4 linked regions of the Homo sapiens genome follow. The protein of the gene in region 1 purifies or fractionates together with the protein of each later gene. This does not show direct contact. Each region holds a gene or a part of one and is shown on either strand. Other genes may lie near its edges.

What was found.
Region 2: the proteins of AZU1 (region 1) and ZYG11B purify together in Homo sapiens (affinity purification with mass spectrometry; 4 studies listed by BioGRID and IntAct, with this or other methods). This does not show direct contact.
Region 3: the proteins of AZU1 (region 1) and SH3GL1 purify together in Homo sapiens (affinity purification with mass spectrometry; 4 studies listed by BioGRID and IntAct, with this or other methods). This does not show direct contact.
Region 4: the proteins of AZU1 (region 1) and ZNG1C purify together in Homo sapiens (affinity purification with mass spectrometry; 3 studies listed by BioGRID and IntAct, with this or other methods). This does not show direct contact.

What each region holds. Positions count from the first base shown.
Region 1 is NC_000019.10:822,848-831,128, forward strand, and holds the start of AZU1 (azurocidin preproprotein), read left to right. Parts: upstream 1-4,989; 5' UTR 4,990-4,999; coding exon 5,000-5,057; intron 5,058-5,382; coding exon 5,383-5,539; intron 5,540-6,714; coding exon 6,715-6,859; intron 6,860-7,860; coding exon 7,861-8,094; intron 8,095-8,281. UniProt on the Homo sapiens protein: This is a neutrophil granule-derived antibacterial and monocyte- and fibroblast-specific chemotactic glycoprotein. Binds heparin.
Region 2 is NC_000001.11:52,820,207-52,827,996, forward strand, and holds the end of ZYG11B (protein zyg-11 homolog B), read left to right. Parts: intron 1-1,232; coding exon 1,233-1,423; 3' UTR 1,424-7,130; downstream 7,131-7,790. UniProt on the Homo sapiens protein: Serves as substrate adapter subunit in the E3 ubiquitin ligase complex ZYG11B-CUL2-Elongin BC. Acts to target substrates bearing N-terminal degrons for proteasomal degradation with the first four residues of substrates being the key recognition elements.
Region 3 is NC_000019.10:4,390,303-4,398,092, forward strand, and holds part of SH3GL1 (endophilin-A2), read right to left. Parts: intron 1-7,790. UniProt on the Homo sapiens protein: Implicated in endocytosis. May recruit other proteins to membranes with high curvature.
Region 4 is NC_000009.12:68,244,706-68,252,495, forward strand, and holds part of ZNG1C (zinc-regulated GTPase metalloprotein activator 1C), read left to right. Parts: intron 1-507; coding exon 508-594; intron 595-2,907; coding exon 2,908-3,004; intron 3,005-4,100; coding exon 4,101-4,192; intron 4,193-7,790.

The sequences.
Region 1 (8,281 bases):
CGGTGGCTCAGGCCTGTAATCCCAGCACTTTGGGAGGTCGAGGCGGGCGGATCACGAGGGCAGGAGTTCGAGACCAGCCTGGACAACATGGTGAAACCCCGTCTCTACTAAAAATACAAAAATTTTTAGGGTGTGGTGGCTCATGCCTGTAATCCCAGCTACTCGGGAGGCTGAGGCAGGAGAATCGCTTGAACCTGGGAAGCGGAGGTTGCAGTGAGCCGAGATCGTGCCACTGCACTCCAGCCTGGGCAACAAGAGCGAGACTCTGTCTCAAAACAAACAAACAAACAAACAAACAAAGAGTGACTTCCAGGCTGGGTGCAGTGGCTCAGGCCTATAATCCCAGCACTTTGGGAGGCAGAGGCGGGAGGATCCCTTGAGGCCAGGAGTTCCAGACCAGCCTGGCCAACATGGTGAAACCCCATCTCTACTAAAAATATAAAAATTAGCCGGACATGGTGGCAGGCGCCTGTAATCCCAGCCAGATGGGAGGCTGAGGCAGGAGAATTGCTTGAACCTGGGAGGCGGAGGTTGCAGTGAGCCGAGATGGCACCATTGCCCTCCAGCCTGGGCGACAGAAGGAGACTCTATCTCAAAAAAAAAAAAAAAAACAAACAAACAGTGACTCCAGAGGGTTGGAGCCCTGCTAGATACCTTAGTTTGCTCATAACAGGCACTGCTGCCCCCGGGAAGAGGGTCGCCTGCCATAAATGCGGAAACAGTTAAATGGCGATGGGAATAGGATGGGAACTCAATGGTGTTGCTACCTTTGGATGGACTCGGAGGCAGCCCAGCTTCCTGGGACAGGACTGCACGGACTGCCTGGGGAGGGGTCTTTGGCCCCCCGGTTCCTGCAGGGGGGCTCGGGGAGGCCCTGTGAGCAGTTGGTCACAGGTGGGTCCCATTCGATGCGATCCTGTTCCTCCCCAACAGCCCTGGAGAAGGGGGACGTTGCCTGCTGTGGCTGCGGCTGTTTTCCTGGCCTGTGAGAGGCGGGGCCAGAGTGGCCGTTGGGAATCTGGGTGTTGCAAGGTGACCACAAACAGCTCTCTGGGGGAGGAGGAGGAAAATGCAATTGATTTTCAGGAGCCTTCTGAGGTCAGGAGTGGGAGAGTGTGCAGGGGGACCCTCCTGGCAGCTTGGGGGTCCAACAGAAGATCTGGGGGAGTCTCAGGGTCTTCTCCCCCTAGGATCACCAGTGGTGGAGATGGGGCAGGCCTGGCCATGGAGGGCACGTTGCTTGGCTGAGGGGCCTGGGCTTGAGTGTGGGGCCTGGGCTTGAGTGATGGGAGAGTTCCGAGCAGGCCGGAGGGGTTGAGCGTACCAGACGCTGCTCAAAACTTTTATTTAAAAATGATTATTATTATTATTACTATTATTTTGAGATGGACTCTTGCTCTGTCGCCCAGGCTGGAGTGCAATCGTGCGATTTCAGCTCACTGCAACCTCCCACCTCCTGGGTTCAAGTGATTCTCCCTCCTCAGCCTCCCGAGTAGTTGGGATTATAGGCGCCTGCCACCACGACGGGCTAATTTTTGTATTTTTAGTAGAAAGAGGATCTCCCCATGTTGGTCAGGCTGGTGTTGATCTCCTGACCTCAGCTGATCTGCTGCCTCAGCCTCCCAAAGTACTGGGATGACAGGGGAGCCACGGAGCCCAGCCTTTTTTTTTTTTTTTGGGAGACGGAGTTGCACTCTGTCGTCTAGGCTGGAGTGCAGTGGCGCGATCTCGGCTCACTGCAAGCTCCACCTCCCGGGTTCACGCCATTCTCCTGCCTCAGCCTCCCGAGTAGCTGGGACCGCAGGCGCCCAGGACTATGCCCGGGTAATTCTTTTGTATTTTTAGTAGAGACGGTGTTTCACCGTGTTAGCCAGGATGGTCTTGATCTCCTGACCTCGTGATCCGCCCGTCTTGGCCTCCCAAAGTGCTGGGATTACAGGCGTGAGCCACCGCGCCCAGCTTTTTTTTTTTTTTTTTAATAGAGAGAGGGTCTCACCATGTTGCCAAGGCTGGTCTCAAACTCCTGGGCTCAAGTGATCCTCCCACCTCGGCCTCCCAAGGCACTGGGATTACAGGCGTGAGCCACCACGCCCGGCCTCAAAAACTTTTCAGAATATGAACCCCACTCCATGCTCAGCACTGTTCTGTCTAGAAGGCAGAGTCTATCCCTGTCTCAGGGCACACTGACGTGCAGACAGCGAGCTCGCCCTGAGGTCATGCGACTGGGAGGGACAGAGCTTCCGGCTCCCGGCAGAGGGGAAATGGGGCCTGGCCCACGGGAGAGCTGAGGCCCACGTTTGGCCAGGACAGGGTGGATGGAGGCTGGGGCCTCCGCAGGGAAGATGGACAGGTAGGATCCGGGGTGGGCAGAGAGGGAGAGCTGGCTTGGACGGAGGCAGGGATCTGGGGGCTGTGCCATGGACCCTGTGAGGTGGCTGGGCTGTGAAACTCAGTGGAGACCGGAATTATTATTATTATTATTATTTTTTTGAGATGGAGTCTCACTGTCTCCCGGGCTGGAGTGCAGTGGCACGATCTCGGCTCACTGCAAGCTCCGCCTCCTGGGTTCACGCCATTCTCCTGCCTCAGCCTCCTGAGTAGCTGGGACTACAGGCGCCCACCACCACGCCCGGCTAATTTTTTGTATCTTTAGTAGAGATGGGGTTTCACCGTGTTAGCCAGGAAGGTCTTGATCTCCTGACCTCATGATCCGCCCGCCTCGGCCTCCCAAAGTGCTGAGATTACAGGTGTGAGCCACCGCTCCCGGCCTGGAGACCAGATTTGAGCCCTGGGACCCTACATTCCCGATGGGCAGCGGACCTCAAGGCACACCGGCCCCGCCTCCCTGGACTCTCCCCGTATCCGCCCCTTGGAGGGGCAAACTGCCCTCAGAGGGCTCCCACAGGCCCAGACACAAACTGGTGTCCCCAAGGGTGTGGGGGACACGGTAAGCTCCAGACCTCAGTTTCACCTTGGAAATGAGCCCCTTTGTAAAAAATGGAGGTGAGTTTGGACGCAGTAGCTCACACCTGTGCTCCCAGCACTTTGGGAGGCCGAGGCAGGTGGATTGCTTGAGCTTAGGAGTTTCAAACCAGCCCGAGCAACATAGTGAGACTCCACCTCTACAAAAAAATACAAAAATTAGCCGGGCATGGTGGCATGTGCCTATGGTCCCAGCTACCTGGGAGGCTGAGGCAGGAGGATTGCTGGAACCCGGGAATCGGAGGCTGCAGCGAGCTGAGATCGTGCCACTGCACTCCACCCTGGGCAACATAGTGAGATCCCATCTCTACAAAATATACAAAAATTAGCCGGGCACGGTGGCGGGTGCCTGTGGTCCCAGCTACTCGGGAGGCTGAGGCAGGAGGATCAGTTGAACCCAGGAGATTGAGGCTGCAGTGAGCTGAGATGGTGCCGCTGCCCTCCAGCCTGGGCAACAGCGAGACCTCAACTCTGAAAAAAACAAAAGAAGGAGATGAAATTTACATAACTTAAAATTAGCCATTTTGAACGGTACAGTGAAGTGGTTTTCGGTGCATTCACCGACTTGTGCAACCATCACTGCTGTCCAGTCCCAGAACATTCCATCACCCCAAAGAAGGAAGCCCCATCTCCATCCATCAGCCATCACCCCCTGCCCTCCCCCGGCCCCTGGCAACCACAGATCCACTTCCTGCCTCTGCAGATTTGCTTGTTCTGGACATTTCGTCTATTTATTTTTATATAGTTTTTAATTTGTTTTTATTTATTTTTTTTGAGACGGAGTCTCTCTGTGTCACCCAGGCTGGAGTGCAGTGGCGCAATCTCGGCTCACTGCAACCTCCACCTCCCAGGTTCAAGCGATTATCCTGTCTCAGCTTCCCAAGTAGCTGGGACTATAGGCGCCCGCCACCACGCCCAGCTAATTTCTTTTTTTTTTTTGAAATGGAGTTTTGCTCTTGTCGCCCAGGCTGGAGTGCAATGGTGCGATCTCGGCTCGCTGCAACCTCCGCCTCCCAGGTTCAAGTGATTCTCCTGCCTCAGCCTCCTGAGTAGCTGGGATTACAGGCATGTGCCACCACGCCCAGTTAATTTTGTATTTTTAGTAGAGATGGGGTTTCTCCATGTTGGTCAGGCTGGTCTTGAACGCCCAACCTCAGGTGATCTGCCTGCCTCGGCCTCCCAGAGTGCTAGGATTACAGGTGTGAGCCACCGCACCCAGCTTGTCAATTATATCTCAATAAAGCTGTTGAAAAAGTTTAAAAAAATCACCCAATCGGGCACAGTGTTTCACACCTGTAATCCCAGCATTTTGGGAGGCCGAGGTGGGTGGATCACCTGAGGTCGGGAGTTTGAGACCAGCCTGGCCAATATAGTGAAACCCCATCTCTACTAAAAATACAAAAAATTAGCCAGGCGTGGTGGTGGACAACTGTAATCCTAGCTACTCAGGAGGCTGAGACAGGAGAATCACTTGAGCCTGGGAGGCGGAGGTTGCAGTGAGTCGAGATCACACCATTGCACTCCAGCCTGGGCAACAAGAGCGAAACTCCGTCTCAAAATAATAATAATAATAATAATAATAATAATCACCCATACAGACGCGCAGGACTCAACGCAGGACTGCCAGCTCCACTGCCCTGAGCCCCCCGGTGCCAGGCCCAGCGGGCAGTGCTGGAGCCCCAGTGGCTTGGGATGGGGAGACTGGGACTCTGAGCTGGCAATGTTCCTGGGTGCTGGCTGCATGCCCGCCATGTGCTGGGCTCCGGGATCCACTGGTTCCTGACACCCTCACCTGCCCCTGGGGGTGTGGCCATCTTCTAGAGAGGGAAACTGAGGATCAGTGCAGAATGTAGGGGGAGCCCAGGCTGGCCCAGGGAGCAGTTGGCGGTGGAGGCCTTGGGCAATTTCCCGTGTTCCCACTGAGTGGGGCTGTCCCTGGGCCTGGGCGGGGACGCCACCAACTGCCAAGGCCTGTGTATAAGGGCAGCCGCCGCCTTAGCCACAGACCTGCCCCGCCATGACCCGGCTGACAGTCCTGGCCCTGCTGGCTGGTCTGCTGGCGTCCTCGAGGGCCGGTGAGTGCCTCTCTGTGCCGGTGGTCCCCCATCTGTGCTAGGGCCCGGCTGCCAGGGCAGAACTCAGACTTAAAGCACAGAGAAGGCAAGCGGCTTGGCCTGGGTCACACAGCCAGCCCGGCCTGGACGATCCCGCGAAAGGCGTGAGGGCGGACGGTGTGCGGGACTCAGGGGCCCCCTGTCCTCTTAGGGAGTGGGACGATGGGGGAGGGTGGGTCCCCCCGCAGCCCCACTGGGTGGATAGAGCTGAGGCTGCAGCTTCACACGCCCTCCCGGCCACTGTGTGGATTCTTGGGGATCTCAGAGCTGTCTCCCCCCGACCCAGGCTCCAGCCCCCTTTTGGACATCGTTGGCGGCCGGAAGGCGAGGCCCCGCCAGTTCCCGTTCCTGGCCTCCATTCAGAATCAAGGCAGGCACTTCTGCGGGGGTGCCCTGATCCATGCCCGCTTCGTGATGACCGCGGCCAGCTGCTTCCAAAGCCAGTGAGGGGTCCTGGGGAGGGGGCCTAGGGGGCATTGGGGCTCAGAGAAGGGGCTTGGGGGGCTTAGGCATTCAGTGGGGGTGCTTGGTAGGTGAGGAGGGGAGGGGATTGCAAAAGGAGGGGCTCAGGGAAAGGAGGGGGCTTGGAGAGGGAAATGGGGACTGAGTTGAGGAGGGACCCAAGGATATTGGGGGGCTCAGATGGAGGAGGCCCAGAGAAGGGAAGGGGGTCAGATGGAGGAGGCCCAGAGAAAGGAAGAGGCTCAGATGGAGGAGGTGCAGTGAAGGAAAGGGGGTCAGATGGGGGAGGCCCAGAGAAGGGAAGGGGCTCAGATGGAGGAGGGGGCCCAGAGAAAGGAAGGGGCTCAGATGGAGGAGGTGCAGAGAAGGGAAGGGGGTCAGATGGGGGAGGCCCAGAGAAGGGAAGGGGCTCAGATGGAGGAGGTGCAGAGAAGGGAAGGGGCTCAGATGGAGGAGGTGCAGAGAAGAGAAGGGCCTCAGATGGAGGAGGTGCAGAGAAGGGAAGGGCCTCAGATGGAGGAGGTGCGGAGAAGGGAAGGGGGTCAGATGGAGGAGGTGCAGAGAAGGGAAGGGGGTCAGATGGGGGAGGCCCAGGGAAGGGAAGGGGCTCAGATGGAGGAGGGGCAGAGAAGGGAAGGGGGTCAGATGGGGGAGGCCCAGGGAAGGGAAGGGGCTCAGATGGGGGAGGCGCAGAGAAGGGAAGGGGGTCAGATGGAGGAGGTGCAGAGAAGGGAAGGGGGTCAGATGGGGGAGGCCCAGATAAGGGAATGGGGTCAGATGGGGGAGGTGCAGAGAAGGGAAGGGGGTCAGATGGGGGAGGCCCAGATAAGGGAAGGGGCTCAGATGGAGGAGGTGCAGAGAAGGGGAGGGGGTCAGATGGAGGAGGCTCAGAGAAGGGAAGGGACTCAGATGGAGGAGGGGGCGCAGAGAAGAGAAGGGGCTCAGATGGAGGAGGAGGCGCAGAGAAGGGAAGGGGCTCAAGATGGGAAGGGGGCCCTGGAAAGTCTCGGCTCTGCTTCTGTAAAAGCGGGGGAGTTTTCAGGGTGAAGGATTGCAGTCTGCAGGCTGGGATCCCCCCTAATTTGCAAGCCGGCTTGCTCTGTGCCCAGGCCCCAGCCTGGTGTCCTCCCTCTGCCCTTTCCTCCGCTACTCTCAGGAACCCCGGGGTTAGCACCGTGGTGCTGGGTGCCTATGACCTGAGGCGGCGGGAGAGGCAGTCCCGCCAGACGTTTTCCATCAGCAGCATGAGCGAGAATGGCTACGACCCCCAGCAGAACCTGAACGACCTGATGCTGCTTCAGGTGAGAGGATGGTGCCACCTGTGATCCCAGCACCTCGGGAGGCCGACGTTAGCCAGGGAAACAAGTCCAAACTTGGTCTCTACAAAAAAATACAAAAATTAGCCGGGAGTGGTGGCGCGCACCTGTGGCCCCTGTGCTTCAGGAGGCCGAGGCGGAAGGACGGCTTGAGGTCAGGAGTTCGAGACCAGCCTGGGCAACATGGCCAAACTCAGTCTCTACAAAAATATATATGTGTGTGTGTGTGTGTGTGTGTGTGTGTGTGTGTGTGTATCTTGCCGGGTGAGGTGGCTCATGCCTGTAATCCCAGCATTTTGGGAGGCCGAGGTGGGCGGATCACGAGGTCAGGAGATTGAGACCAGCCTGGCCAACATGGTGAAACCCCATCTCTACTAAAAATACAAAAATTAGCCAGGCATGGCAGCGGGCGCCTCTAGTCCCAGCTACTCAGGAGGCTGAGGCAGGAGAATCGCTTGAACCCGGGAGGCGGAGCTTGCAGTGAGCCGAGATCGCGCCCCTGCACTCCAGCCTGGGTAACAGAGCCAGACCCTATCTCAAAAAAAACTTCCAAAAACAATACAGCAACACATACAGATGTACCACGGTTCGCGTATGGAGCCTCCTGTTGGTGGAGACTGACGTCGTTTTCAAATGCTTTTGCTATGACAGAATCATGTGAATGTTTTTCATGTTTGGTTTTTTTCTTTGAGAAAATGATAAAATTATCTCAAAAATATCATTAAAAAATTTAAAAAAGTAGAGACGGGGGTTTCACCTTGTTGGCCAGTTTGGTCTCGAACTCCTGGCCTCAAGTGATCCACCCACCTTGGCCTCGCAACGTGCTGGGAATACAGGCGTGAGCCACCGCACCCGGCCCCTGCCGGGAATTAAACGCAAACCACTTACAGACTACAGTTAATGTCGCTGACACTTCTGCTCCCAGGGGTCCCCATGAGGCTCCAGTCCCCAGGGCCACCCTCCCCTGACTCCATTTCCTTCCCCAGCTGGACCGTGAGGCCAACCTCACCAGCAGCGTGACGATACTGCCACTGCCTCTGCAGAACGCCACGGTGGAAGCCGGCACCAGATGCCAGGTGGCCGGCTGGGGGAGCCAGCGCAGTGGGGGGCGTCTCTCCCGTTTTCCCAGGTTTGTCAACGTGACTGTGACCCCCGAGGACCAGTGTCGCCCCAACAACGTGTGCACCGGTGTGCTCACCCGCCGCGGTGGCATCTGCAATGTGAGTGCTCCCTGTGGCGGGAGGAGGGGTCCTGAGAGGTACTGAGCTCTCCGTGGCAGGAGAAAGCAAGTGCAGGCTGAGGGCGGCACAGCAGGGGGGCCCCAGGATTGAGCATTTTCACGGTAGGAGAAACAGTATCTTTTTTTTTTTTTTTGAGACAGAGTCTCGCTCTGTCGCCCAGGCTGGA
Region 2 (7,790 bases), on another chromosome or scaffold:
CCCAGCCCCTGAATAATTTATTCTAAAATGCACTGTAATTTGGGGAATATTAGAATATTTTGTCTCCAACTCAGATAGTTTAGGTTCCTACCTTGTGGGCTTATTTTGTTTATATTTAAATGGAATTCACTTCTATTTGTATTAAAATGTTTTAATGTGGCTGGGTGTGGTGGCTCACACCTGTAACCCCAGCACTTTGGGAGGCTGAGGCAGGCAGATCACTTAAGGTCAGGAGTTTGAGACTGGACTGGCCAGCGTGGTAAAACCCCACCTCTACCAAAAATACAAAAATTTAGCCAGGTGTGGTGGCTGGTGCCTATAGTCCCAGCTACCCAGGAGACTGAGGAAGGAGAATTGCTTGAACCCGGGAGGCAGAGGTTGCAGTGAGCCAAAATTGTGCCATTGGACTCCAGCCTGGGCAACACAGCAAGCTGCAGTGAGCCATGATCACACCACTGGGCATGAGCCATGATCACCCCAGCCTGGGCAACAGAATGAGACTGTCTTTAAAAAAAAAAAAAAAAAAAAAAAGGCTAATAAAATATTTCAAAAATTTAAAAATTGTATGTGCAGTATGAGTGCCATTAAGTTTTTAAAAAGCATAGTAAATGCAGCCTGGCATTATGGCTCATGCCTGTAATTCTAGTACTTTGGGAGGCTGAGGCGGGAGGATTGCTTGAGGGCAGGAGTTTGAGACCAGCCTAGGCAACATGGTAAAACCCCATCTCTACTAAAAATAAAAAAATTAGCCAGGGGTGGTGGCATGTGCCTGTATTTCCAGGCTGAGGCACAAGAATCGCTTGAACCCAGGAGGCGGAGGCTGCAGTGAGTCGAGATTGCGCCACTGTACTCTGGCCTGGGCAACAGGGCAAGACTCTGTCTAAAAAAAAAAAAAAAGCATAGGAAATGCATAAAAATATAACAACACTTACCTGTGATTTTGGGTCAAAGATAAGGTAGTTATGATTGTTTTTATTTTTTTAATACAGGTTGTACATGTCTTGAGGTTAGAAAAATCAAGCTAGCTATTTATTGATTGAATGTGTAGGCCTTGCACTGTAGACGTAACATCAGTATAGAGGTTATTTATCAAGCTGTAGCATGTTAGTGATCAATAACAAAACAGCTAAAAAAAAATGGCTCCTAGAAGTCATTTTTTTGTGGAATAATTTTCAAGTGTTTTAAGAAAAGCTATTTCTCCTGTTTTGTGTGTGTTTTTTTTTCTTTTTCAGCTTCAAGGTATTGCAGCATGCTGATTGAAGAAGGAGGATTGCAGCATTTATACAACATCAAAGATCATGAACATACTGATCCCCATGTCCAACAGATTGCTGTGGCCATTCTGGATAGCTTAGAAAAACACATTGTGCGCCATGGGAGGCCACCTCCCTGTAAAAAACAGCCCCAAGCCAGACTAAATTGATAGCCATAAGTATTGGATAGTTGAATCACAGGAATCCTTTTTGTGATTGGTCCATTTGGAATATCTTACCCTCCCTGATGTTTTGGGGGTTTCTATGACAAGAGTCATAAAATCAGTTTGGGATTGATAATGTGTAGTACTGCCCATGTGAACAGTCTCTAATTTGTCTTGTGATTTTAAACTTATGAGTCAAGAAGGGTCTCTTCCTTTATCATTGCCTTTTAGGAAATTTTCCACATCTTTCAGTGTTTGAACTTACTTGTGCTTGAGATTCTACAGTTTTATGGTAAAGTTTGCACGAACCCTTAGGCCAGACTTTTCTGATCTCAGAGTCCCTTCCAATCAATTTGCAGCTTCACATAAGCTGTTGACCTGATTTCTGACACTGCTTCAGTTGTAAATTTTATACTGCTTCTGTATAAAATGCCTTTCTTCTCTATCTGTGTATATTTTATAAGATGTCCTTCTTAGTGTGAAAGAAGGGAAATGTGGATCATCTTGTGGAAGCTAATCACTGGCAGGAGCCTGGATGGCTGGCGGAAAGATATATGAGAAAGAAAAATTATGAAGGTAGAACAGAGTGTAGGAACTGGGAATTGGTTTCATGGTATAGGTTTTAAAATGAGACAGGCTACCCTTCGGGAGTCCACCTCTCTTGAGGCGGTGAGCAGAAGCTTGTCCTCCATATTTATACCTAGAAGTGTGGACTGCTGGTTCCTGCACAGACTGCCGGTTATTCACTAGGAATATTTCCCCAAGCACCACAGTATAAAATACTACAGCACTCTGTGTTAAAGACTAACTGTCTACATCTCCATATGTTGTAGTGTTGTGAAAATGTGATTTTAAAAAATTATCGCCAGTTAAAACTGGCTATTCTTTTCCTCTATTTCAAAGTCATTTTTGTTCAGTGGAATAGAGACAGCAACATGGTGTTAACCTCTCAATTAAAATACAATTGACACCAGTAAATTTTGCCATAAAAAGTTAAAATCTCTTGTTCAAAATATGTGTATCTTCTTAATGTGTTCATGTTAGAGAAAGTGTCCCCATCTCACTGCCAAAAATGAAAGAAAATAATTAAACTCTTTAAATGATTAAATGTAATGATTCTACTCGCAGTGCATAACAGCACATATTTTTGACAGATTATTTTTTAGGCAATTACCTTTCCTTAAGGTATCTGATACAGTATAGTAAAGAATCACTTATATCAGTAATAGCACTTGAGAGATAGCAAGTCACCAAGAAACTTAATTTTCATTTAAAATTTTATTTTGTGAATAAGGTCAATCTACAATCCCAGATAACTACATTTTTTTTCATAGATGGCCAGTGTTTTCAACAGAGATTTAAAATGGAATATTAAAATTATAGTGATTATTCAGAAGCATTTTAATTTAGAAAGGAGCTGGTTTGTTAGTTCACTGATGACATTTTTTGACAAACATTTTATACCATTATCACAATAATCAGACTTGAATTTTTTTTGGAGTTCCTTCATGTGAATGAAAACTGAGTTAAAAGAAAGTAGGCATTTAGGTCTGGATGCAGTGGCTCATGCTTGTAATCCCAGCACTTTGGGAAGCTGAAGCAGGAGGATTGCTTGAGCCCAGAAGTTCAAGACTAGCCTGGGCAACATAGTGAGACTCGGTCTCTACCAAAAAAAAAAATTTTTTTTTTTTAAATTAGCTGGGTGTGGTGGCACCTGGGAAACAGAGCGAGACGCTGACTCAAATAAATATCTAAATAGATATTTAGAATCACTGAAAACCATATTAAATGCTGGGTTAATGCTGACTTAATTGGCTTAAGGAATTTTTATAGGCGTAAGATAAATTTTCACAGACTAAGTTTATTTCAGACAAAATAGAGAATTCTTTTAAAAGTTTTTTTTTTTTTTTTCCTTTTTCGAATGTTAATGTCTAAGACAAAGTTCAGAAAACGAGATGGCCTGTGGTAGTTTGGAAATTGCTAGATATGTTGACCGTTTCCAGGTCTTTTATCTAGTGTAGTTAAGGGAAAGCCTATTTAAGAAGTTTGGCTTCAAGTTTCTGTTTTATAAGACAAAAGTGCATATTTCTTTACAGGCTAATGCTAGGTTTTTGTCTTTACAAATTATTTTCAGAAATGGCTAAAAGTGTACAGAAAACAGTAAATCCCTTCTTTACTCAGAATAACTTCTTAATAGTTGAAGCATCCAAAATATGTAAAAGCAAGGGTGGGCGTAGTGGCTCTTGCCTGTAATCCCAGCATTCTGGGAGGCCGAGGCGGGCAGATCACTTGAGATCAGGAGTTCGAGACCACCCTGGCCAACGTGGTGAAACCCCGTCTCTACTAAAAATACAAAAACTAGCTGGGCATGGTGGCTTTTTTGCACGCCTATAGTCCCAGCTACTCGGGAGGCTGAGGCACGAGAATCACTTGAACCCAGGAAGTGGAGGTTGCAGTGAGCTAAGATCGTGCCACTGCACTCCAGCCTGGACAACGGAGTGAGACTCTGGGGAAAAAAAAAATTAAACTTCCTACTTTTTTTCTTTTTGTAGAGACAGAGTTTCACTCTGTCGCCCAAGCTGGAGTGCAGTGGCACAATCATACCTCACTGCAGCCTCTTGGGCTTATGTGATCTTACCCCCTCAGCCTCTGGAGTAGCTGGAACTACAGGCTAAATTTCCTACTTTGTAAACATCAGTAGTGGCCAGATACTTCTGAGTCTTAAAAGCATAATAGGCCGGGCGCGGTGGCTCACGCCTGTAATCCCAGCACTTTGGGAGGCCGAGGTGGGTGGATCACAAGGTCAGGAGTTCAAGACCAGCCTGGCCCAAATGGTGAAACCCTGTCTCTACTAAATATACAAAAATTAGCTGGGTGTGGTGGCGGGCACCTGTAATCCCAGCTACTCAGGAGGCTGAGGCAGGAGAATCGCTTGAACCTGGGAGGTGGAGGTTGTGGTGAGCCAATATCATGCCACTGCACTCCAGCCTGGGTGACAGAGTAAGACTCCGTCTCAAAAAAAAAAAAAGCATAATAATTTATTACATCCCAAATATATAAAAATTTGAGTGCCTTTGCAGTTGGGATGGTTCCTAAAATTGCGTATAGAATTAAGGCACAGAATTGTGTGTAAGGTCCTGAATCTGGCTAAAATACAGTGGATGTATGTATTGGAATTATGAGGCATAAGTAGCCAGTATCTATAGTTAGAATCTACAAGGCCTCCTTTTTGCACCTGTAGACTAGAATATAACTGTTATTGGTGCCTTTGAGTGTTATCTCTCAGTGGCTAGAGGTGCTGTTTCAAGCACAATTTAGACTAGGGTTGAACCACTCATTGTTCAAATCATTGGTGGGCTCCAATGTAAAATATCACTACATCAGTCCACAAGCAACATTAAGGAAATCTAAAGGAAATGGAATTTGACTTTTTAGAGTATAATGATGTTCTAGGGCATAATGAGGAAAATTTTTAAAAAATAGATTATAATGATACATATTGGTATCATTAAGACAACAGATTTGAGCAAATACAATTAAGGTGTCTTATTTTTTGCATCAAGTAATTATTGCTGTGGTCTTTCTACTCCACAAAATAATTTTTTCTTTTTGCAGTTGAAAATTAACTGCATTATTAACTAATTAATAAAATAAATCAAGTGGTATAAGGGATTAGTTTACCCTCAAGCCGATGACTCCATGGCTACTGATATTAGTTAGTTTAGGATTTTTAAAAAGCATATCAGACCCCCAGTTTCAGGAATTGAGTATAAATATTGCTTCTTGTCACCCTGGGACAGTAATGCCTTATAGTGGCACTAGTCACCTTAAGTAGATTACACATGGTTGAGGTGAATAAAGCTGCATGGGAATTTGCTTTCGTGATATATTTCATTTGCAAACTTCTACATAATCAAGTTTTATGTTTAAAACCATCGGTTCTATATATCTAGCTTTAGGAAGTTGCCCTTACAGGTGGGACCTTTTGTGTTAATCTGTTTTCTCCCCAGTCATCTTATTTGGCTATGTTAAAAAAAAAAAAAAAAAAAAAGCGAGAGAGAGAGATGGTGTCTCACTGTGTTGCCCAGGCTGGTCTCGAACTCCTGGCCTCAAGTGACTTTCCCACCTCAGCTTCCCAAAGTGCTGGAATCACAGGCATGAGCCACAGTGCCTGGTCTTAGCTGTGTTTTTAATTATGCCATGCATCAACATAACACCGGGCCATCTTCCTATCCCTTCCTATCCCATATGTTTAATGAAAACATATTTTATGTGCTAAATTAGGTTAATTTACCAGAGATTTAGCTTAGTGTTTTTAAACTATAGAACAATACCCCTATAGAACAATGTACAGCTGCACCCAAGGTTAAAAAGAGGTAGCAGGGAAAACAAACTTAAACTCTTTGTATATGGTGAAACCCATCCCTCTCCTGCCCTCTAATGGTATGTTTACATTATTTCGTTATTATACAATGTAGTGGTATAAACAGTATTATTAAACTGAAGGCATAAGTTAAAGGAAGTATGTTACTTTGAGCTGATGTAGGCTCTTCCACTTTTATCTGTATTTTACTTATTTGGGGACTTTGTATTGCTAGGGCTTCAGAATACTAACTTTGACACAGCTCCCAGAGAGGTTTGCAAACTTTTGGTTTCCCTCTCAAATCCATGGTAGTAGTTTCAAATGAGTTTGTGGATAATGGATGTTTAGTCCTTATCATTTGCTGTGTTTTGACAGTTTTTAATTTGCAGTATTCACTCACGAACTGTTTTATTTTAGGAATAATGCAAAACCAACCTTCGTCCGGTGATGAGAATAGCCGTATGATAAGAGAATTTGCTCATCGTGCTTTAAATGATTAACTGTTTTACCTTATTTAGTATTTCATAGACTTTGCATGATATGGTACACTCCTAATTATGCATTCTTTGGTTTCCAAATCTTAATCTAAGATACTTTGTTAACTGACTGGTAGCCTAAGAAAGAGACTTTTCTTCCTGTTTTTCTCTCTCCCCATTTTTTGGGGTAAGTTTTGCAAAGATCAGTGCTGCTTCTCATGACTCTAAAGTAAAGCTCTTTTGGATAGCACAGCCTAACTTTACAGCTAGACAGAATGGCCATTAAGAATATTTCCAAAATCCAAGTTTATCAAAATTATTTTGTGGGAAATCATCAATCTATTTTATTAATGTTATGTGTTTAATTTTGGACTTATTTTGGGAAAAACTGTTCAAATTGGGTCCTTTTAAGCTTATTTTAAGCAGCCTAGAAGGAAGAAGCTACTTAGCTAATGAAAGCTGAGACACTTTATTAAAAGCAGGATCTTAAGAGCATTGTTTTTCCTTAAAAACTTTATACTCTCAGATAATCTGCAACAACAAAAATTAAGAAATCCCTGACTTTTGTAGAATTCCCACTGTCAAATTCTCACTGACTTATGAGTGTGAGAGAAGTTATCTTTTGTTTGAATTCTGATAGAACAGTTTAACTCCTTTCTAAGGATATAAAAAATTCATTGGAAAGTGTGTATATTTCAAAGACTCTCAATTATCTGGACTGAAGGCACTGTTCTCACTATGGCCAGATGAATGGGAGTATTCTGTACATGAATCATGCTGTATTTTAAATCAGGACATCACTTAAGTATTAATGTTGTGTGTACAGATTTTTGTTTTGGGATTTTTTTTGCCTAAATAAATGTTATAAATTTTATGTAAAGTGTGTCTTGTCTACTTTTATTCTAGACATTTGGCTTTAAAAGTTAATATTAATGCAAACTTCAAATTCCTTAGTGATCCACTTGTAATGATTGCTTTCTGAAAAAGGCTACTTTTACTGGAGAAGTTTTTATTTTTATTTTATTTTTTGAGACAGGGTCTTACTCTGTCACTCAGGCTGGAGTGCAATGGCATGATCGTGGTGCATGCCACCACACTAGGCTAATTTTTTAATTTTTTGTAGAGACAGGGGTCTCCCTATGTTGCTCAGGCTGGTCTGGAACTCTTGTCCTCAAACTATCCTCGCTTCAGCCTCCTAAAGTGCTGGAATTATAGGTGTGAGCCACCACGCCCAGCCTGCAGACATTTTTAATACTGGAACATCATCCATTTCCTTTTTTTTTCCCCCCACTCAGCGTTGGCCTTGAACATTCATTTCCTTAAATACCTATGCTAAGTACTATTTAAGAGTTGTAACTTATATAACTTATAAATACTTCAGGGAACTTAAATTTACTGGAGAAGAGTAAATATTAAATAAACAGATAAATATTGCATAACAGTATATTAAAGACCAGTCCTCAATACTTGTAGAGAGAGACCACACCTAATCCAGACTGGACACCCATTAGACAGTCCAAGAAGACTTCCCGGA
Region 3 (7,790 bases), 3.6 Mb from region 1:
GAAACGCACCAAGCTGCAGTGCTCAGGAAAAGTGCTTGCCAAATCCAGCCCTGCAAAAGGCGAGAGATAGAGAAAGAGAGAGACAGGCAGGCAGACAGACAGGAAGAAGGTGTGGAGAGGACAGACAGAGAGAGAGGAAGAAGAGGTGAGAGGGCAAAAGAAGGGAGAGACAGAGAGAAAGACAAGGGAAGAGTGAGAACAGAAAGAGAGGAAGAAGAGGGGGGAGAGATAGGGAGAGGAGGGGAGAGAAGGGAGAGAGGGAAACCCGCTGCAGCCCTGGCCACCACATTCTTTCATCCGCTTTCCAGGGACAGCTTCGAAAAAGAACCAGAAGAGACCGCCCCCTGACACTTCAGCTCACACATTAAAAAGCCATTAGAGTTGGAGAGCTCAGGTCCTGCTGAGATGCCTCCAGAGCCTGTTGAGCTCCTGACACCTACCCCACCCCCACCCCGGGGCAATGCTTCCCCTTCCAACCCTCCCGGCACTTAAAGACCTCAGGGGCTTGGAAAAGAGAAACATGGAGGCCGCTCTGAGCTTCTCCTCTAAGCTCTGCCCCGGGCAGCGCCGAAACCTGCGGCTGCCTCCGAAATCCTACTGGGGACGTTGGCAGCATGCTCCAAATTAAACACGACGTTTCCCCAGATCAGATCAGTTGCAAAACACTGGAAACAATCACGGAGGAGGAAAAGGGCTAAGGCAGCAGTGAAGGCTTGGCTGTACCCTAGGCCCCTGGATTAAAGTCCACTGGACACAGAGACACAGGCAGGTCTGAGCGGGACGGGCCTCAACCTGCAGGTTTCTCCTTTGAGGAAAAAATGCAACAGACACACACACAGACATCTGAGGGGCCCAGCTGCCAGCTCAGACCTCAGGTGCACTGCGCACGTGACAGCGGCCACCCCTGGGTGGCCAGGGGTGGGGTGAGCAGTGTCATGTTCTCTGTGTGCTTGATAGGTCTGGGGTGTCAAAATGTGACAGCCCCCAATTTCTTCAACTGAGCGGCATAAGGTGAGACACCTCATCTCGCACTCACAGGCTGTTATTAGGGGCACCTGGAATATAATTAAGTACTGCAGAGCTGGGCTTTAACACACACCCAGATAAGCAGGGCGATCAGCACCCACGGAGCCCCAACTGGTCTTTGGTGAACACGGGATTCTGAGTCAGAGACAAACTTTTAGCCGAACTTTCAGCCCTTGACTTGTTCTGGGACCTACTGTACAGCAGTCACGGGTGGCAGAAATCGGAGTCTGATGACCCCTTGGTCCTGGTTTGTTAAGAATGGGAAAACGTAGGATGCTGCTTGGTTACAAAGTGCCCAGTGACCACCAACAGCCAACCCTGTGAAGGGGGCCAGGTGAGCCAGGTTTCACAGACAGGCCCGGGGAGCCGTGGGGTGTAAGGAGCCTCTAGCTTCCTTTGGGGAAAGGCAGTCTCAAACTTCTGTGTCTGCACAGCCCAGCTGGCACACAGTTCAGGCCTCCACACAGCTGCTGGTTCCACCCGTCTGCAAGCCAGAAACAGAGTGAGCCCTGCCTGTCCTGGGGTGGCCCAGGGTCCACGCCGCCGGCTCCAATGCCGGCTCCAATGCCTCAAGGCACACACCAGTACATGCCGCACGTTCCTGGATTCAGTCACCAGAGCTTCCTGCAAGAACGGACTTAACTCCATTCCCATCATACGTGGACATCACAAAGCAAAGTCCCTTCCTACATCTGTTGCCAACACCTCCCCGAGGGAGAGGGGGCTTCCGGAGGTCAGCCTGCAGCTGCTGGACTCACCGGCCTTGTCCCGGGCACAGCCTCTGAATCACCAACGCCGGCCCTTACCAGCCCACACAAAAGTGCCTCTCAACTACCTGTCACTCCCAGCACAAGGGTATACACTTTTATCTGTGCCAAGGTGAAGGGGTTATGAACCCCATATTTTTGTATCTTAAGATTATTCCCACTGGCTCACGCCTGTAATCCCAGCACTTTGGGAGGCAAGGCAGGGAGATCACTAGGTCAGGAGTTCAACAACAGCCTGGCCAACATGATGAAACCCTGTGTCCACTAAAAATACAAAAATTGGCCAGCTGTGGTGGCGCACGCCTGTATTCCCAGCTACTCAGGAGGCTGAGGCAGGAGAATTACTTGGACCCAGGAAGCGGAGGTTGCAGTGACCTGAGATCGGCCCGCTGCACTCCAGCCTGGGACAGAGCAAGACTCCGTCACACACACACACACACACACACACACACACACACACACACACACACACACAAAAGATCATTCCATGTTTATGGCTTAACAAGTCAAGCACTTTGGTAGGAAAACCAAGAGTGGCCCCACAAAGTGAGGTTTTAAAAAAGAGGTCAGGGCCGGGCACGTGGCTCAGGCCTGTAATCCCAGCACAATGGGAGGCCAAGGCGGGCGGATCACCTGAGGAGTTCAAAACCAGCCTGGCCAACAAGGCGAAACCCCGTTTCTACTAAAAATACAAAAATTAGCTGGGCATGGTGGCAGGCACCTGTAATCCCAGCTACTCAGGAGGCTGGGGCAGGAGAATCGCTTGAACTGGGCAGCAGAGGTTGCAGTGAGACAAGATCGTGCCACTGCACACCACCTTGGGAGTGGGGACAGAACAAGACTGCATCTCAAATACGTAAAATTTTAAAAAATCATAACAACCCGGGCGTGGTAGCTCACACCTGCAATCCCAGCCCTTTGAGAGGCTGAGGCAGGAGGATCACCACCTGAGGTCAGGAGTTCGAGACCAGCCTGGTCAACACAGCAAAACCTCATCTCTACTAAAGATACAAAAATCAGCTGGGCGTGGTGGCACATGCCTGTAATCCCAGCTACTTGGGAGGCTGAGGCAGGAGAATTGCTTGAACCCAGGAGGCGGAGGTTGCAGTGAGGTGAGATTGCGCCACTGCATTCCAGCCTGGGCAATGGTGTGAGACTCCGTCTCAAAAACAAAAAAAACAAAAATAACAAAACAAACAAACAAAAAAAAACACCATCATAAATAAACTAAAAAAAGGTCAGGGCCAAGCACAGAGGCTCACGCCTGTAATCCCAGCACTTTGAGAGAATGAGGAGACAAGATCACTTGAGTCCAGGAGTTCAAGACCTGGAGTGGTGGGGTTTAAGGAGCCTCCAGCCTAGGCAACATAGTGAGACTCAGTCTCTACAAAAAAATTAAAAAATAAATAAAAATAGGCGAGGCACAGTGGCTCACTCCTGTAATCCCAGCACTTTGGGAGGCCAAGGCAGGTGGATCACGAGGTCAGGAGTTCGAAACCAGCCTGACCAACATGTGAAACCCCGTCTCTACTAAAAATACAAAAATGAGCTGGGCGTGGTGGTATGTGCCTGTAATCCCAGCTACTCAGGAGGCTGAGGCAGAAGAATTGCTTGAACCCGGGAGGCAGAGGTTGCAGTGAGCAGAGATCGCGCCACTGCACTCCAGCCTGGGCGACAGAGCTAGACTCTGTCTCAAACAAACAAAAAATTAATATTAAAATTTAAAAATAAATAAAAATAAAAATAGGTCAGAACAAGCAGTATCGTTGACATTCTGAAACACCAGCCATGTCCCAGACACTGCTTACTCTGACCTACAGCCCCCAAATAGGTGGGGCCCAGGATCCCCCGGCAGACAGTCCTCCCCCAACCCCCCTGGCCTCTCCTTTTCTCCTAGGCACAAACCCAGGGCCTAAGGAGCATCAGGCAGATTTCAAAGCTATGGGAGGTGACGCTTGTGAATGTCCCTCCTAGCTCAGTCTGAAGCAATCTTTCCATTCAAATGTTCAAACCCTCTCCCTCCTTTCAGGCAAAAAAAAAAAAAAAAAAAAGCCAGCATTCCAGGCAGCTGCCAGCTCTACCCCTAGTTACACTCTCAATCTCACACAGCCCGGCCACAAGATTTATCAGGAAGCCAGTTAGCAGCTTAAGCCTGGAAATAATGTCACCCAAACCCCCAGCACACCAAGGGAACTTCTGAGAGCAGCTCTCGCTAGCGGCATTCTTTCACCCTCCTTAGTCCCCCAGTTCTAGCTGCGCACGGATGCCAGGAGGCTCTTGAGGGAGTGGGTGTCACACAGGCAGAAAGGAGGGAACCAGGGAGATGGGACCATGACGGACGGCTTTTTACTGCTTTCTTCCAGATGATTCAACTTTCCCCAGCTCAGGCCCTCAACCAGTCTATGGCCAGTTCATGACAAGAAGTAAAAACTCACAAACTGCCCACTCAAGCCCAAACCAATTTTGAACAAGTTCCCAAAAGGTTTTGCAGGGAGATGAACTAGCCTGGAACCCACTAAGGTTCTTACCATTATCACCAACGAGAGATCAGAAACTCAGAACCAACAACACAGCCTCGCCTGTTAGAAAGTAAGTTTATCTTTTCCAGCACTCTCTCCCGCATCCTCCCGGCCTCTGTTGATCAATTTAGAAAGGACACCGTAAGAACCCTTGGAAGTCTAGAGCCTGGTTTAAAGCAGGGTTTCTTAAGCTCAACTCTACTGACGTAGGGCTGGAGAATTCTTCCTTTGCAGCGGGGGGAAGCTGTCCTATGCATTGTAGGATGCTTGGCAACCATCCCTGGCCCCTATCCCCTCGATGCCATGAGCATTCTCTCCCAAAGTTGCGATAACAACTGTCTCCGACATTGCCAAGCCAAGGAAGGGGTCTGCGCCATCCCCGGCTGACAGCGCTGATGGGCGCGTGCCCCTCCTTCAGGAGCCCCGATGCCTGTGGCTCTCAACTATTAAATCAAGTTCCAGCAAAGAACTGGAAACCTTTAAGCTGTGTATGGAACCATTGTGTGTAGCACTGGAAACTGTCCCTTTTCTAAGTCACTGTAAATGGTGTTTTTTTTTGGAGACAGGGTCTGGCTCTGTCTCCCAGGCTGGAGTGCAGTGCTACAATCAGGGCTCCCTGCAGCCCTGACCTCCTCAGGTGCAAGCGATAAAGGTTCCTCGTGATCAGCTGGAAGGTACTTTTGAATTAAAGGTTCACACTGAAGAACCTAAGTGGATAGTGGCATTTGAGGCCAGCAGTGAAAGTGTTTCCTCTCAAAGAGTTCCCTACACAGCAGCAGACATGGTTATTCTGAGAGTCATGTATGTTCTGTGTTTCTCTGTGAACCATGTTTCAGTCTTTGTTTCTGTCATCATATGTACGGGAAATTCCATAGAGACTACATCACACAAAACTGACATTGTCAATTACCAGGAAATACAGGTGCTCACCTTTTGAAGGCTTATTCATACATATGGTTGCCACAATACGTATATATGATAAACAGTGTATGTATACATACAAGTTGTTTAGGCCAGGCACGGTGGCTCACACCTGTAATCCCAGCACTTTGGGAGGCTGAGGCGGGCAGATCATGAGGTCAGGAGTTCAACACCAGCCTGACCAACATGGTGAAACCCTGTCTCTACTAAAAATACAAAAAAAATTAGCCGGGTGTGGTGGCGCACCTGTAATCCCAGCTACTCAGGAGGCTGAGGCAAGAGAATCGCTTGAACCCGGGAGGCGGAGGTTGGTCTCAGTAAGCCAAGATTGCGCCACTGCACTCCAGCCTGGGTGACAGAGCAAGACTCTGTCTCAAAATATATATATATATATACAGTTGTCACAATATGTATATGATAAACGGTGTACATATACACATAAAATGTTTATGGTGGATCTAGCTCCCCCCTAAAAAAGAAGCCCAGATACTGAAAGACACTCGAATTTTCCTAAAGACTTGAGGGTGGGCTCGACCTTAGGGTCTGGATGCTGAGTTTTATGTAAATATCTACCTGTGGGGCGGGGTGCCATGGCTCATGCCTGTAATCTCAGCACTTTGGGAGACTGAGGCAGGTAGATCACCCGAGGTCAAGAGTTCGAGACCAGCCTGGCCAACATGGTGAAACCCCGTCTCTACTAAAAATACAAAAAAATTAGCGGGGCATGGTGGTGGGTGCCTGTAATCGCAGCTACTCGGGAGGCTGAGGCAGGAGAATTGCTTGAACAGAGGAGGCGGAGGTTGCAGTGAGCCGAGATCGTGCCATTGTACTCCAGCCTGGGCAACAAGAGAGAAGCTCCGTCTCAAAAACAAACAAACAAACAAAAACAAACTACACATGTGGCTATCTGTGTTTAGCAAACTAGGAAAATCTTTGTTTTATTTTATATTTTACTTTTTTTTTTTTTGAGACGAAGTCTCGCTCTCATCCACCAGGCTGGAGTGCTTCCCAAACTGCTGGGATTAAAGGCGTGAGCCACCACACCTGGCCAAACTAGGAAAATCGTAAGAATGGCTCAGTGGGGATTTTTTTGTTCCTTTGTTTTGGTATAATTATCCTCATTTTTTTTCCAAATCTTCAAGCAGGGTTTCTCAAATTTTGGTACTATTGACATTTGGGGCCAGGTAATTCTTGGGGGCAGTGGGGAGATGCTGCCCTGGGCACCGGAGGATGTCCAGCAATATCGTCTACCTACTAGTAGCCAGCAGCACCGCACCAAGCTGTGACAACCAAAAAGGTCCCAGACATTGTCAATGTCCCCTGGAGGACAGAACTGGCCCTGTTTTACAGGAAGATAAATGTCCCCTAATCCTTTTGTGTAAAAGGGGGAATGTTTTTTACCCTTAGACCGGATAAGCAAGACCAGCTGAGACCTACTGGTATAAAGCATACTGCCTGCTCACATGGTGAGAACTCAATAAATGTTTGTATCACTACGTAATGAGAGATCCCGAGAGATGTCACTTTCCAACAGGCACAGCAGAGGGTGAAAGAGTTGTTATTAGACTAAAAACAAAAAAAGAGACACAAATAGTCGGATACGTCCAGATAACAGCTGAGATGTCAGAGGGAACCATGGCAATGATCACAGAAGAGCATGGAACGCAGCCAGGGTGACTTCTAAGAGCACGACTCAGGACAGAATTGACCAGGAGGCCAAGACGACAGCCCCGAGGGTGGGCTGTGGCCATTGTGCTTTGGGACTAGGCCTCGGGATGTGGAAATAGGCAATCCTAAGCCCAGCTAACACCACACTGTCCTTTCCAGGCTTCAAGGCGCCATTCACAGATCTGAACGCAGGTCATCCTGCTTCCCTTGAGAGAGACAAAGTCCTGGTGGCCGGCACAAGAGGCCTGGTTCATTCCTCTAAAGAGGGTGTCAGCTCAGGACAATATGGGCACAGGCCCTGATCGCTGGGAGTGGGGGTGGTGGCTTCCAGAGACCTGTCTATAGCAGGGAACAAAGTGGCCCAGGAATTCCTCCAAGACCTCTGAGGACATCTTTCCTGCTAGGGAGCAGTACTCTATGGTGCTCTAACCAAGCAGGTGAAGGTCTGACGCCTGCTGGGCAAGGTCTAACCCAGGGCCAGGCCATCTGATTTCAAAGTGCTGGGGCAAGGGGGTGGGACTGTTCTCAGTGACAACTCTAAAATTCGTCTGGATTAAATCTTTCTCCAGGGTTTAACCATCATCTGGGGTGTAGAGATAGACCCTAAGTATCTATATCCCTAAACAACCACTAGGGTTGTTACTTTTTTTATTTATTTTTTGAGACAGGGTCTCACTTTGCTGCCCAGGCTGAAGTGCAGTGGCACGATCATAGTTCACTGCAGCCTTGAACTGCTGGGCTCAAGTGGTCCTCCTGCCTCAGCCTCCCAAGTAGCTGGGACTGCAGGTGCACATCACCACACCTGGCTAACTTTTTCATATTTTGTAGAGATGGGATCTCCCTATATCGCCCAGGCTGGTCTTGAACTCCTGAACTCAAGGGAACCCCT
Region 4 (7,790 bases), on another chromosome or scaffold:
CTACTGGAGATTGACATATTGGGTTTCATATGCCACCTGCTGGATAAAGTTGGTATAGCTTTATGAATTTATCTTAACTGAACATTCTGTTCATTGTTGACACTACCTGGCTCTATTCCCCATTTCATAAAAACTTTTATAGATTGTTTAAAGCATACTATAAGTAGCCATATAGTCAGCCTGAAGTTGCGTCTCGTTAATGTTGAAATAAAAGGTCACTATAAATAAAAGATTGTGTGTCAATTTTAGGGAAGGTTAGGCTAGGTTGAAGAAACTGTTTCAACTTGTAGGAGTGTTTGTAAATATTTATAAAATTTTATGTCTACATAAAGTATTTTGCAACAGGTTTCAAAGGATGCTTTAATCTTATCCTCTAGGATATTCTATACTAAAATAATATATGAAAAATAGCATGCAAATTCTCAAAAACGTTAGGATTCTTTATATGTTTTTTGTATCTTTAAAATTATTTTGAATTTTTTTATTTACAAAAAATATGTTTTATAGGTGCTGGGAAGACAACACTTCTGAACTATATTTTGACAGAGCAACATAGTAAAAGAGTAGCGGTCATTTTAAATGAATCTGGGGAAGGTAAGTAAAGTTCAATAAATGTCATGTTGCAAGATTTTGTGTGACTGTTTATTCCTCTGGTGAATTGATATTCCATATTTAAAAATGAAAATGCAAGGTATTGTATTGATGTGGATAGCTTTAGAAAAATTAGATTAATTTCTGTTAAGATTTATATGGGTTGAGATACTGAAATTAGTTTTAATAAAATTTTATTTTGTATAACTTTGGAATTCTTATTAACAGAATTAAACTACATTTTTACATGAAATAAATGACTCCAGAAGTAAAAATCTAGACATATGAAAAAACGTTTATTTTTTATTTTATTTTATTTTTTTTGAGATGGAGTCTCTCTCTTGCCAGGCTGGAGTGCAGTGGTGCAATCTCAGCTCACTGCCACCTCTGTCTCCCGGGTTAAAGTGATTCTCCTGCCTCAGCCTCCCGAGTAGCTGGGACTACAGGCATGCGCCACCATGCCCAGATAATTTTTGTATTTTTAGTAGAGACAGGGTTTCACCATGTTGGCCAGGATGGTCTTGAGCTCCTGGCCTTATGATCCACCCGCCTCGGCCTCCCAAAGTTGCTGGGATTACAGGCGTGAGGCACCATGCCTGGCCAAAAAATGTCTTTTTTAGGAATTAGAAAGGCAGTTTTGTATGGACTCTATTGCAACTCATGAAAAATATTTGAAAATGCTTCTGTTATTAGTTAACTTTGTTTAATGTTTATTATCTGCAATGCAGTTAAAACTCAATATTTTAAAAAGAAAGTAAACATATGGTCTTTATCCTCATGTATTTTATCTGTGAAAATAAGTGTGCTTAACTTCTCAACTCAAATATTAAACTGTAGTAAAAAAAAATAGCTCTAGACACAATACTTCTGTTATCTTTATAGGAGTTTTTCTTCATAAGTATGAATTGTAATCAAAGCTCACTTCTAGCCAAAAAACAATATCTATTAGACGATTTCTTTTAAAATGTACTATTTTTTTCAGTTGTAAAAAGTAAAAGAGCTAGGTTTTATGAACAGGATGGGAAGCCAGTTATATTCCAGTTATATTCGATTTCTGATTTTAATAAACTAAAGAGAAAAGTGCTTTTTAGGCAAAAATCCTGAGATTTCTAATAACAGACTGTTTTTTTCATCATCTTATTAAATAACCTATTGCACACTGATTACATTTATTCTTACTATTTTCTTTATTTTTTCCTGGATCATTTTCACAATTTTATTTTTCACAGCATTCTCAATACTTTTCTTCATGTTTCATTAATGTTCTGTATATAGTCCGAATTCTGTAGCAACCTCTTTAGAAGCTCTTTATTAATACCTAGCTGAAATATAAAAAATATGTAAGTGTAAAACTACTCGATTTTATGGGAGCTCATTTGCTTAGTGGACTTTTAGAACTTCACCGTTTGGTATATTTCTTTATTAGAGGAAAAGTAAAACATTTAAAATAATTCTTATAGATAACAAGCATTTCAAATATAGTTTATTCTTTCTTAAGTAAGTATTGCTAGGAAAATATGTGAATTTGACTAAAAGTTTAGGTTTTTTTTTTTTGAGATGGAGTCTCGCTGTGTTGCCCAGGCTGGAGTGCAGTGGCACAGTCTCGGGTCACTGCAACCTCCGCCTCCCGGGTTCACGCCATTCTCCTGCCTCAGCCGCCTGAGTAGCTGGGACTACAGGCGCCCGCTACCACACCTGGCTAATTTTTTGTAATTTTAGTAGAGATGAGGTTTCATTGTGTTAGCGAGGGTGGTCTCGATCTCCTGACCTCGTTATCCGCCCGCCTTGGCCTCCCTATAAGTTTAATTTTTAAATGAGCACATGGTACACTGGCCAAAAACCTTCCTCAGGATGAACTAGGGTTTTTACTCATTGGGAATATTCAGCAGTTTGTCTAACAGAAACAATTTAGAAGAAGAATGAAAAGAAAAAGATAAGGCAGTCTCTTAAGAGGTTGAAGGGCATACAGAATCCAGTATATAAAACATACTAGTCGATTTAGAAAGTTTACCCTGGACAAGAAAAAAATGCCTTCATTAAGAAATGGGGGTGGCCAAGTAAGAGGCCTAAGGAGGAAGTAGGTATGTTTATCAGTTTAGGATGTGTCTTTTTCAGGGCTTAAGACATCTTAAATAAAAGCTAAAATAATGTAGTGTACTGTAATTTAGGTATCAAGGCTGCATGAATAAAGTGAAAGAATATAAGTTATAAAATGCAGTTTCTGCTTTAAGATCTCCATTATTGAGTTATCCTCATCTTTGTTTTTTGTTGGCTAATGGACATAAGCTAAAGAGTGCTGTTTGTTATTTATTCTAGGAAGTGCGCTGGAGAAATCCTTAGCTGTCAGCCAAGGTGGAGAGCTCTATGAAGAGTGGCTGGAACTTAGAAACGGTTGCCTCTGCTGTTCAGTGAAGTGAGGAATGTGTTTACTGTGTACATGGTTTACTAGAAATGTTTATTGATTATATTTCCAGCTTTAATTTTCTTGAGTAATTTAACTGAATTTACACAGTTTGCTTCATTGTATTTTCAAACAAATAGAAAATAAACTTATTAGGAAGCATTTTCTTAAAGTGTTTCTTGCTGTCTTTTCTATCTGCTCTAATGTTTTGGTCCTTTTATTGAGTTTTTATTGCTTTTGATGTCAGGGCTTATTTAATCTCTAGTGCATGAAAGTCTCATATGTAAAAAATGATTATTCTGAATTTAATCTGTCATTGGTCATACTTCTAAGTGTTCAACCTTATAAAAAATAAATGACTATCAAAAAAGAAAAACCTTACATTATGTTCTAGTAGTTAAGTTTCCAAGGACAGTGATCACTAGTCTACCATAGACCCTAGAAGAGTTACCCAACACATAGTAGCACTCAAATATTTGTTGAATGAATTATAAAAATGACTACTTGTATTGTTAATTTTGTGTATTCTAGTGAATTAAATCTCTTCGGCATCATTTACTCCCTTAGGTATTTGACTTTGTGTCAAATGTTTTGGCAAGGATAAAATTATAACAGACTTTCTTGAACAACCAAAATGTAATCTATTAAGGATTTTCCTTCACTTTTGATAAAATAAGAAAAAAGGAATTTAAAACCTTGCATCCTAATGTAAAATAGAATTATATGGTGTTTAATATCAGTGTCCCTTTAGCTATTATATTAAACTACTATAGTTAATAAATTTTATCATTATTTTGTATGTTGGTTTTTAAAAATTTCATAAAGCTATAAAAAGATACTTGGTCAGATAAAGTTTCCTCTGCTTTTAATTTTAATAAAGTATTATTATGTATATGATTTCTTTTTACCTATTATATATATGCATCTATTGTTTTCTCACTGGTAAATATGGGACAGACATTTTGTTAGAAGGTTAGAAGTGAGTTAAATTTTCACATTCCTAAGGATACTTTTGTCTCGGGTTGTTGAATACATTTTAAAGTGTTTATAATAATCACTTCAAAATATTTAGGTAATTAACTGTAAATTATGTTTTGGTATTCTCCAGGGACAATGGCCTTAGAGCTATTGAGAATTTGATGCAAAAGAAGGGGAAATTTGATGACATACTGTTAGAGACCACTGGATTAGCAGACCCTGGTAAGAAGTGAGATTATTAATAACCAGAATATAGTTCTGTGATATATTGTAAATAGATGTATTAGAGGAATATCTAAAATGAGTATTAAAGCTTTTGTTAGTATTAAACCAAAAACTTTTTTTGGTTTAAAAGAGGAAAAGTACTCGTTTGTCATTTTCTTTGGCAGTTGAATGAATGATCAGAGTATTTCTTGGTGCTTTTAAGCTGTTAATAGAATTGGAAGTTTTATTGATTGATTTAGGATTATTTGTAAGAACAGAAGTTGTTAAAAATAAGGACATGTAGGAAGAGCAGAGACGTTCTACTTCTAAGTACAGTTGTCCCTTGGCATCCATGGCGTATTAGTTCCAGAACCTCTGAGGATACCAAAATCTATTAATGTTCAAGTCCCTTACATAAAATGGTGTAGTATTTGCCTATAACCTATGCACATCCTCCCATATACTTTAAATCATCTGTAGATTACTTATAATACCTAATACAATGTAAGTGCTGTGTAAGTAGTTATTATACTGCATTGATAAGGTAATCATGACAAGAAACTCTAAACTCTACTATGGAAAGCTACACAGAGTCAACCTGTTTCTCACAATGGGTTTCTGTTACCTTCTTACCAAGCTCTAATTCTTGATAAAGTCTGCTTATTTTCCCCAAATAACTTTTAGATAAAATCTTTATTTTCAGTTTGCATAAAAGTTAGTGCTTATTCTGTGAATCTGACCCATACCATTATTTTCTTTTTGATCTGGGTCTCTGGCATTGGGGCGATTTGTAAAACTATATTAAAGTATTTGGGGGTAATTTACTAAACAGGTCATAGTTGTCCAAAAGAAATATTGAAGTATCCTGAGAGTTCAAATGTGATCAGTGGTTATTGTACTTAAAACAATTACGTAGTAACATCATCCCCATGTTTTCAAAGTAGTATTGAATTAGGCTATTTTGGTCCTTATAGTAGGCATGGGTTTTCATACCTTTCTGATAAATCTGACTGATGATAGGACTTGGACTAATATGTTGGCGTTAAATATTATTTGAATCTGGTAAGAAAGAATATATTGTATGCTTTTATTAGAAATAGCAAATATCAGTTTATTTCATCATAGCCAGTTTTGCCATTTTATAGACAAAAACTTGATACTTTTGAGAGTTTAATTAAACACTATTCAGCTTTTCAGAGGAAGAAAGAAAAACTAAAGATCACAGAGAAAGCTTTTATACAAATTGTAGTTATAAAAAATGTTAATGTTTCTTGCTTCTAACTTTCTTTACAATAAAGATTTTATTGTTTGGGTAAAGATGGAACATTCATTGTAAAAAAATTTAAATACCTAAAAAATACAAAGAAGAAAGTTGAAAAGTAATCATCTCACTATTGTGATATACAAGTAAGGGCTGGGCATGGTGGCTCATGTCTGTAATCCCAGCACTTTGGGAGGCTGAGGCAGGTGGATCCCTTGAGGCCAGGAGTTCAAGACCAGCCTAGCCAACATGGTGAAATCCAGTCTCTACTGAAAATTCAAAAACTAGCCAGGCGTTGTGGCGCACCCCATAATCCCAGCTACTCAGGAGGCTAAGGCATGAGAATCGCTTGAAAGCTGGGAGGCGGAGGTTATGGTGAGCCGAGATCACGCCACTGCACTCCAGCCCAGGCAACAGAGCAAGACTGTATACACACACACGCACATGCACACGCACACACACACACACACATTCATACACACACACACAAGTAGGTAAATTTTATTCCAGGGATCTCTCTATGCCAGTGCTACTTGGTAGTATGTTGAATGGCAGCCTCAGCCTCAGCTGGGAGCTTGTTAGAAATGCAAATTCTTGACCAACCCAGATCTACTGAATCGGAATCTCTAAGGGAGGGGGTCAAGCAAGCTGTTTTTAATAAGCCCTTCAGGTGATTCTTATACTGTACAGCCATACCGCAGGGATATTGTGGGCTTAGTTCCATATCACTGCAGTAAACTGAATATCACAATAGAGTGAGTCACACACATTTTTTTGTTTCCCATTGCATATAAAAGTTATGCGTTTTGGCCGGGTGTGATGTGACAGGCCTGTAGTCCCAGCTACTTGGATCACTTGAGCTCAGGAGTTTGAGGCTGCAGTGAGTCATGATTGCACCACCGCACTCCAGCCTGGATGACAGCATGAGACCCCATTTCTTAAAAAAAAAAAAAAAAAAAAAAAGCTGTGTTTATACTATACTGTAGTCTATAAAATGTGTAATAGAATTGTCTAAAAAACATACATACCTTAATTAAAAATATTTATTGCTAAAAAATGCTAACGATCATCTCAGCTTTCAGCAAGTCATAATCTTTTTGCTGGTAGAGGGTCTTGCCACAATGTTGATGGGTGCTGACCAATCAGGGTAGTAGTTACTGAAGGTTGGGGTGGCTATCGCAATTTCATAAGATAATAATGAAGTTTGCTGCATTAGTTGACTCTCCCTTTCATAAAAGATGTCTCTATAGCACATGATGCTATTTGATAGCATTTTACCCACAGTATGACTTCTTTCAAAATTGGAGTCAGTCCTCTCAAACCCTGCTTTATCAATTAAGCTTCTGTCATATTTTAAATCCTTTGTTGTCATTTTGACAGTGTTCATAGCATCTTCACCAGGAGTAGATTCCATCTCAAGAAACCACGTTCTTTTCCCGTCCATAAGAAACAACTTCTCATTAGTTAAAGTTTTCTTATGAGATTGCAGGAATTGAGTCACATCTTCAGACTCCCCTTCTAATTCTAGTTCTCTTACTGTTTCCACCATATCTGCAGTTATTTCCTCCGTTGAAGTCTGAAATCCCTCAAAGTCATCTGTGAGGGCTGGAATCATCTTTCAAACTCCTATTCATGTTGATACTTTGATCTCCCATGAATCACGAATGTTCTTAATGGCATCTAGAATGATGAATCCTTTCCAGAAGGTTTTCAATTTACTTTGCCTAGATCCATCAGAGGAATCACTATCTATGGTAGCTATAGCCTTATGAAATATATTTCTTAAATAAGACTTAAAAGTCAAAGTTACTCCTTGATCAGTGGGCTGCAGAATGGATGTTGTGTTAGCAGGCATGAAAACAACATTAATCTCCTTGTACATCTCCATCACAGCTCTTGGGTGATCAGGTGTGTTGTCAATGAGCAATAATATTTTGAAGGAATCTTTTTTTTTCTAAGCAGTAGATCTCAATGGTGGGCTTAAAATAAACCATGCTGTAAACAGATGTGCTGTCATCTAGGCTTTATTATTTATAGAAAACAGGCAGAGGAGATTTAGCATAATTCTTAATGGCCCTAGAATTTTCAGGATGGTAAATGATTATTGGCTTCAACTTGAAGTCACCAGCTGCTTTAGCCTCTAACAAGAGAGTCAGCCTGTCCTTTGAATCTTTGAAGCCAGGCATTGACTTCTCTATAGCTATGAAAGTCCTAAATGGCATCTTCTTCCAAAAGGAGGCCATTTCATCTCCATTAAAAATCTGTTGCTGGCCGGGCTCGGTGGCTCATGCCTGTAATCTCAGCACTTTGGGAGGCCGAGATGGGCAGATCACGAGTTCAGGAGTTTAAGACCAG